Homo sapiens: one gene and its partner. The protein of the gene in region 2 purifies or fractionates together with the protein of the main gene of each other region. This does not show direct contact. Each region holds a gene or a part of one and is shown on either strand. Other genes may lie near its edges. The genes, in order: TCEA1 and NAA16.

Evidence for each region.
Region 1: the proteins of NAA16 (region 2) and TCEA1 fractionate together in Homo sapiens (co-fractionation; one large-scale study listed by BioGRID). This does not show direct contact.

What each region holds. Positions count from the first base shown.
Region 1 is NC_000008.11:53,984,208-53,988,033, forward strand, and holds part of TCEA1 (transcription elongation factor A protein 1), read right to left. Parts: intron 2,819-3,826; coding exon 2,762-2,818; intron 311-2,761; coding exon 156-310; intron 1-155. Other genes in the region: LYPLA1-TCEA1 readthrough, read right to left, coding at 156-310, 2,762-2,818.
Region 2 is NC_000013.11:41,366,506-41,370,331, reverse strand, and holds part of NAA16 (N-alpha-acetyltransferase 16, NatA auxiliary subunit), read right to left. Parts: intron 2,894-3,826; coding exon 2,680-2,893; intron 1,243-2,679; coding exon 1,049-1,242; intron 1-1,048. UniProt on the Homo sapiens protein: Auxillary subunit of the N-terminal acetyltransferase A (NatA) complex which displays alpha (N-terminal) acetyltransferase activity.

The DNA of each region.
Region 1 (3,826 bases), on a different chromosome or scaffold from region 2:
AATCACCTTAAGTATTTGTCTAGTATATAAATATATCAGAATAACGGAAATTTATTACATATGCAATATTTATATAGTAGTCTATGATGATAATAGGCTTTACACTTCACAACACAGAATCACATTATAGAAACCTCAGATTCACACATACTCACCTCTGCTGTCATTCTAGCAAATAAGTCAGGAGGAATATTCCCACAGAGGACATTTTTCCTTAAATTTGGATTTTTTGCATCTTTAAGATTTGATATCCTACTTCGTACTCTATTTTTGTATTTCATGTCTGTATTCCTTATTTCTTGATATATAGGTACCAGGCCGTTAAGGAAAAAAGGCAAAATTACAAAAGTAAGATCACTTTTTTTTCCTGTTCTGCCAAAATAAGAATTCCTGAGGCCAGGCACGGTGGCTCATGCCTGTAATCCCAGCACTTTGGGAGGCTGAGGCTGGTGGATCACGAGGTCAGGAGATCGAGACCATCCCGGCTAACATGATGAAACCCCGTCTCTATTAAAAACACAAAAAATTAACCAGGCATGGTGGCAGGTGCCTGCAGTCCCAGCTACTCGGGAGGCTGAGGCAGGACAACCACTTGACCTGGGAGGCAGAGGTTGCAGCGAGCTGAGATCAGGTCACTACACTCCAGCCTGGGCGACAGAGGGACACTCCATCTTAAAAAAAAAAACAAACCTGAAATTTCTAAGCAATTCACGACAACTGTTTCCAATTTAGAGTATGTTAAAAACAAGGTACTATATCTAATTCCTTGAGCTGTAATTGGCGAATAATAGTGATATTACTTTTACACTGTAAAGTAGTTGTTTGTTTTGAAGGTGGGTAGAAGGAGTCTCACTCTGTCACCCAGGCTGGACCTCAGCTCACTGCAACCTCCACCTCCCGGGTTCAAGCAGTTCTCCTACCTCAGCCTCCCGAGTAGCTGCTGCGATTATAAGCGCCTGCCACCATGCCCGGCTAATTTTTGTATTTTTAGTAGAGACGGGGTTTCACCATGTTGGCCAGGCTGGTCTCAAACTCCTGACCTCAGGTGATCCACCCGTCTCGGCCTCTCAAAGTGCTGGGATTATAGGCGTGAGCCACCGCGCCCGGCCTAGTCATGTTTTATTTCCTAAATGTTTAGTGCCAGCAGTATGCAAGTCAACAGGGTTTCAAAAAGTAACTCAAGTACTCAACATGAGAAAGCACATGTTTGAAAAGGAGCTTGAACTTATTCAAGCTTTACTTGCCCAAATCCGAATTCTACTAAGGATCCTAAAGTCTCTCTGGTCACACAGTTCCCACAGGGTCTCTGAGAAGAGACCATTCAGCATGGCCGTGAGGGTTCCTCTCCTCCCCCAGCTCAGCAGGAGCTACCTCAGCAGGCTCTTCTTCTCTGCAGAAGAGGCCACTGCCAAAGCTGAACCCTGGAACAGCTCCCTTCCTAATAAGGCCATTTCCTCAACCAGGACAATCTCATGTTACACAGCCACCTAGATGCTCCCTGCCCCTACTCACACACAGTACCCCTCTCCTGGAGCCCTTTCCCGGTGCTTAGCAAGAACACGCTTCCTCTGGGATAATGAGCTCAGGTGACTGTGTGTGCTCTGAGGTCCCCCTAACTGAGAAGTCTTCACATTTATATGTGTGTGCTTTCCATGCCCTTTTGCACAACTTAAATTCAGACACTACAGTCTCAATCTACAAGGCAGAAAAATTTAAATGTCATAAATGCCATCAATACTGTACTTTCCTTTTCAATAACAGGAAAAACAAGACAAATAAAATGACATAGATGTCCCTCTCCTTTCCAAGAAAACAATACAATCAAGATAAAAAGTGAAGAATAAGACTTTGAATTCTATACCAACAGGAAAAATTAAGCTAGCAGATTACTTAAAACAATTATGACCACTTGAAGTTGTGTGACACCAAGAGACCTTTCTGGCTGGTAGCAGAAGTAATAGATGTCACTCCTCAGCAGTAGTTTTGAAAGCCAGTATGCAATTTATCCATTTTACCTTCTGCCACATCACCACTCACAATGGCCAATCCACCTGCCTGGTCCTAGAGGACAATGACCCAAAGCCCAGAGTCCTCAGCTAGCCTGTGATGAACATATAGGACAAATACATTCCTGTTTGTCCAGTTTAATCTGTGAAAGAAACCTCTGTGGTGTTAAGCCACTGAAATTTCAAGGTTGTCACCATAATATAACACAGCCTGTCCTGCCAAGTACATAAAGTCAATCTTGGACACTCATGTTTTGCTAGGAAAGCGAAATTCTTTAGGTTTTCAAATTGCCAACGAGATACACCCAATGTTCTCATGTATTTTGTAATCTCTTCTAATTATGTTATCGGTTTGCCTTTCTTGTTCTCAATCATATTTTCACTCTCCTGCTATCTGAAGCAATTTTACTAGGGATTTATATGTTTCAGTTTCCAAAGAGCCAGGTCCTTTTAAACTTCGCTGTTTCTAGTTCATTCAGCTTCAACATGAAGGAAAAAGTCTAGCGTGGTGGTCAAGGTCATGGGCTTGGAGCCAAATTCCCTACAATGGAATCCCAGCCCTGTCAGTGTCAGGCTGTGTGATCTAGAACAATGACCAATCCTCTTCTGCTTCTGTTTTCTCTCTGTAAAATGGGATGAGAGCACCTAATTCATTGGAAGGACTACTGCATGTAAAACCGTGCCTGGCATTTGCATATGTTCAATAAATATTACTTATTAAAAAAAACAATTATGAATATACACACAAAGGATATCTTCTTCAATTTGAGATCCTAATTCTTCCTCATCAGCTCCAATTGCAATGTAGTCATCTAAAAATAGGCATAAAGAATTGTCAAATTATTGTAACAGATTAAAAGAAAATTCTAATACCAGGTAATTAAACTGCATTCCTATTTCTTAAACCCCATTTGCCTGACATAAAGAAACCGTTCAGTTTAGTTCGTTAGAATCTGATCACTTCACTGCCCGCTAGACTTCTTTTCTGGGCTTCACCTGATACCCACAGTGCTCCTGCACTGATGATTCCTGATCCCTCAGGCACAGGAAGTAACTGATCTAGCAGGCAATTCATTTTTCGTAACTCCATAAATTCTGGCTGCTCCAGCAGAGTAGAGAAAGTTACAGAAAGAACTGTCTAGTCTCCTGTGACTCAGGCTTCAATGCAAAGAAATCATTTAGTTAATCTGCCAATCACATATACAGACACACTCAGAAGACTGCTATACAAATATGCAAGAGGATAGAAGGAAATAAACTAGGCAGAAAAAATAAAAGAGACAGTCAGGAAATCAAAGTAGAAAGGGCAGAGTAAGGAGAAAATCAGGTCAAACTAGCCATGGTGCAGAATGAGAGAAAAGAAAAAGGATGAATTCGTATAAAATAACAAATATTCCTGTATATAAAACTTTAAATCCAAATGTTACATGTTAAGACTGGATACTTTCAAATTAAATTAAGCTCCCATATATAAATCAAGACTCACCCTCCCTTTTTCTAACTAGAAAATGGAAAACATTCATACTATATGTCATACTATTCAACAATTCAGTATTGTTAACTCTCAATATAAGATCAGGGTATGTAGTTTGCAGATTAAATTGTGGGGAAACAAAAGATTTGTGAGAAAAAAGTGTACATTACTATGAAATCAGGGAAAACATCCATGTATTAGAGGGAATCTATTTCTTACAATTACATAGTAATAAGCAAATGCCCCAGTATTCCTCCTCCTCTCCCCCTTAACAGACCCGTATCAGCAACAACTTCTCCCCAAGCTAAGCAGCAGTGGGTGGGCTATCCACAGGGTAACACTCATC
Region 2 (3,826 bases):
AAAACCTGTTCAGGCAGATACCTCTTCTCCTCAATGATTTTCTCAATGGCATCTGGAACTTCTCTGCCAGCTCTTGGTGAGAAGTTAATTCTTCTGTTATCTGGACATTTTTTAACCCAAACATCTTTCTAAAATTATCAAACCATCCTTTGCTGGACCCTCAAAATTCAAACCTATGTTGTTCAAAGGCCAACTGTACTAGACTTACAGTGAATAAACCAGAAAACTAAATATTTCCTTAAATCTGATCCCAAAACAACTATTAACACTTGAGAAAATCCTGGAGGTGCTATCTCTTTGTAGCTACAACATTTCTAGTAAGACATATAAGGTAAAATGATTCCATATGTAATGGACAATTGTATTGCTGCTGTAACAAATTACCAAATATTTATTGACTTAAAACAACACACTTATTATGTTATAGTTCTTATAGGTTAAAAGCCCAACACAGTCTCACTGGGCTTACAATCAAGGTGTCAGCAGGACTGCATTTCCTTTGGAGATTCGAAGGGGGAATCCGTTCAATGCCTTTTTCAGCCTCTCTAGACTGCCCACACTCCTTAGCTTGGGGCACCCTCCTTCCATCTTCAAAGCCAGCAACAGCAGGTTGAGTCCTCCTCACATTGCATCATTCTGACCTCTGCTGCTGGCATCCTCAACTTTTAAGGCCCCTTTTGACGATATTAGGACCACATGGACAATCCAGGCTAATCTATCTTGAGGTCAATTCATTACAACCATAAATTCCATCTCCCACCTTAATTCTCCCTTGCCATGTAAGGTTACATATTCACAGGCTGGGGGGACCAGAACACAGACACCTTTGCAGGGCCATTACTCTGCCTACCACAATTGCAATTCTATGTATAACTTGCATTAGCCAAAATTTGTATACTGTCACTCAAAGATAATTGACGGCTATTATAAAAACCTTGAAATATTTCAAATGGCTTCTTACAGATTTAAATAAATCATGTTAACTGTCAGAACGGAACCAAATAGCATAAATTTTACCAAATAACAAAGATAGTAAAACCCATCTCACCCTTTCTAATTTTTCAGGTATAAGTTCTTCCTTAAGGCCACTGGCTTCTTCTTCTTCTTCATCTCTTTTTTTCTTTTGATTTTTCTGTTGACGTTCTCTTTCTGCATGCTTTCTTTCTTCTTCTAGTTTAGCCTTTTTCTGAGCTCTTCTCTGCTTGCTAAGCATTTTCTTCAATTCTTTGGCTGACAAGTTTTCTATAAATATCCAAATGAACAAAATTCTGAGCCAATGTTTGCATTTTCTTCATATTCTTCTGTAATACATACTGTTAGTATGGTTGTCCCTTGGTATCAGTGGGGGATTGGTTCATGACCCCCACCCCCACAAAGTCCACTGATACTCAAGCCTGTGATATAAAATGACACAGTATTTCCATACAACCTATGTACATCCTCCTGTATACTTTTAATTAGATCAGCTTTAAATCTTTCACCTTCCTTTTGCTTTAAGTTGCATATAATGACTTCACTTTTTCATAAATTATATTATGGTCTATAGGTATGCCTAAAATAATGTAAATGCTATGTAAATAGTTGTTACACTGCATTGTTCAGGAAATACTAATAATGACAAGAAAAAAAGTCTGGACATGTTCAGTACAGATGCAATTTAAAAAAACATATTTATGATTTGTTCCACCCATGTGGAACCCACAAAAATGGAGGGCCAGCTGTATACTTTTTTTTTCTGTTTTTTGTCTGGGCAAGGAGGGATGCAGAGGCAACCCATATAAAAGCTTTTAGAAAGTGTATCCCCAGTGACTAGAACAAAATTGGGCACACAAAGGACAGCCAGTAAATGTTGCATTAACTAAAATTGACCAATAGTAGCCCAGTTCTGCCTCCTACACAATATATGACTCCAGGCAAATCACTTTGTCCTTCTCAGTATCAAGTCTTTCAAGAATAAGTGAGATAATACATATAAACACCTGTGATCTCTAAATACTATATAAATATTAGAAATGAACAGCTACCTAGGAATATCTGAGATAGTTACCTAGGCTCATTTCATGCTAACTATTTCTCAAATATTCCTAGATATTAACATTCTAGTGAATAAAAAACTGTACAGATATTCTCACTGATATTCTTATTTTTAATAAAGTAGGAACTAGAAATTTTAAGATTATATATTTTTTCCTAAGGAGCTCAAAGCTATTTTCAGTTACAATTTTTTAAAAAAGAAAGAAAAAAACTAGTCCACAGACATTTCTATGTTTCCTAAACTCGTCTTTTTAAAATTTTTGTAGCGACAGGGGTCATGCTATGTTGCCCAGACTGGTCTTGAACTCCTGGCCTCAAATGATCTGCCTGCCTTGGCCTCCCAAAATGCTGTGATTACAGGCGTGAACCACCATACCCAGTTCTTAAATTGGTCTTTCTGAAGACAAAAATAAAAAAAATTCTAAGTTGTTCCATTAAAGTAATTTAGAACCATCAGCTACAGAATATCATCCCACTTTTTTTAACTCTCTCTGCAACATTTTTGTTTTTTGGCATATGAGTTATCTAATGTTTGTCTTCAACTCCAACAGACAATATATTAATATTTTTCTAGGTATTGTTTACGCTAATGGCATTCTGAAATTTAGTGTCCTTTTAAAATCTTTTAAGTTCCTATTCAGTTACCTGAGTTTATTTCTTGTTGTTTGCTTTCATTGGTTAAGGGATTATCATACAATTTCAAGTATATTTCAATCGCTGATCTAGCAGCCTTGAAATAAAAGGCATGTCTTCTGAGTATATCTTCTAATCTCAAAAGGTCAACATAGGCACGAAGGGTCATCTTTCTCATGCAGTATGTATGGAAGTCGAATTGGTCATCAGTTATCTCAAAAAAATGCTTAAAAACAAAAATCACAAAATTAACCTTTACATTTATGTCAATAATGTCTACCTTTAGAAAAAAAAAATTGTAAAAAGCCCAAAAAACAATTTAAACAGTCACAATTTTCACTTAGCTGCCCTCTCCAATGTTTTACACTATAAAGGATATGAATTATTTTTGGCATTCAACTTGAACTTTCTCTTCCTACAAACCATGCCCATTCCCTACAAATCATGTTTTGTGATGATACTCAACTTCTATATAAGTCAAAAGATCAGGTTATTTTTTAAACCTGAAAGTTAGTATATATTAATATTTTAGTTTTAATGAAATACTCTTCCTCCATATTCCCTAAAAACCAGCATGGCACAGTTAAACAGAGCTCTGAATGAAGACTAAATATGTGTAGGTTCACACTAAATATTTACAAATCTGACTGCTCTACTCAACTCTACCATTTTCAAGGGCAATCCTTACCCACCGCCTGCCACAGGGCCTAATACATAGCAGACATTCAGTAAGCACAGTATTTGCCCACTCAAGAGATAAGCTTCTTATTAGGGATGCGACCCTGAATAAGCCTTTTAATTTCCTAGACAATTATTTAATCTAAGTTAAGAATAAAGAAATCCATACAGCCAATTTCTTAAGGTTGTTAAAGGATCAAATAATGTATTTTAAAGTTCATTTTCAACAGTAAACTGTTATATAAATACAGAACTTTATTGTTTTCTCTTACTCTACCTACATTCCATTTTAGCAGAAGTTCTGAAACTGGAGTCTATGTATAAACAAGCATAAAAACTTCTTCCTAAGGAGAGAGCTCAAAGCTTTCATCCAATTTTCAATGGATCCATGGCCAAAAGAGGTTAAGAACTAATCCCTTCCATGAAAGGTGAACACTAACCCTCTGCCCCTCCCCCAACAAAACAATCTTATACTTATACT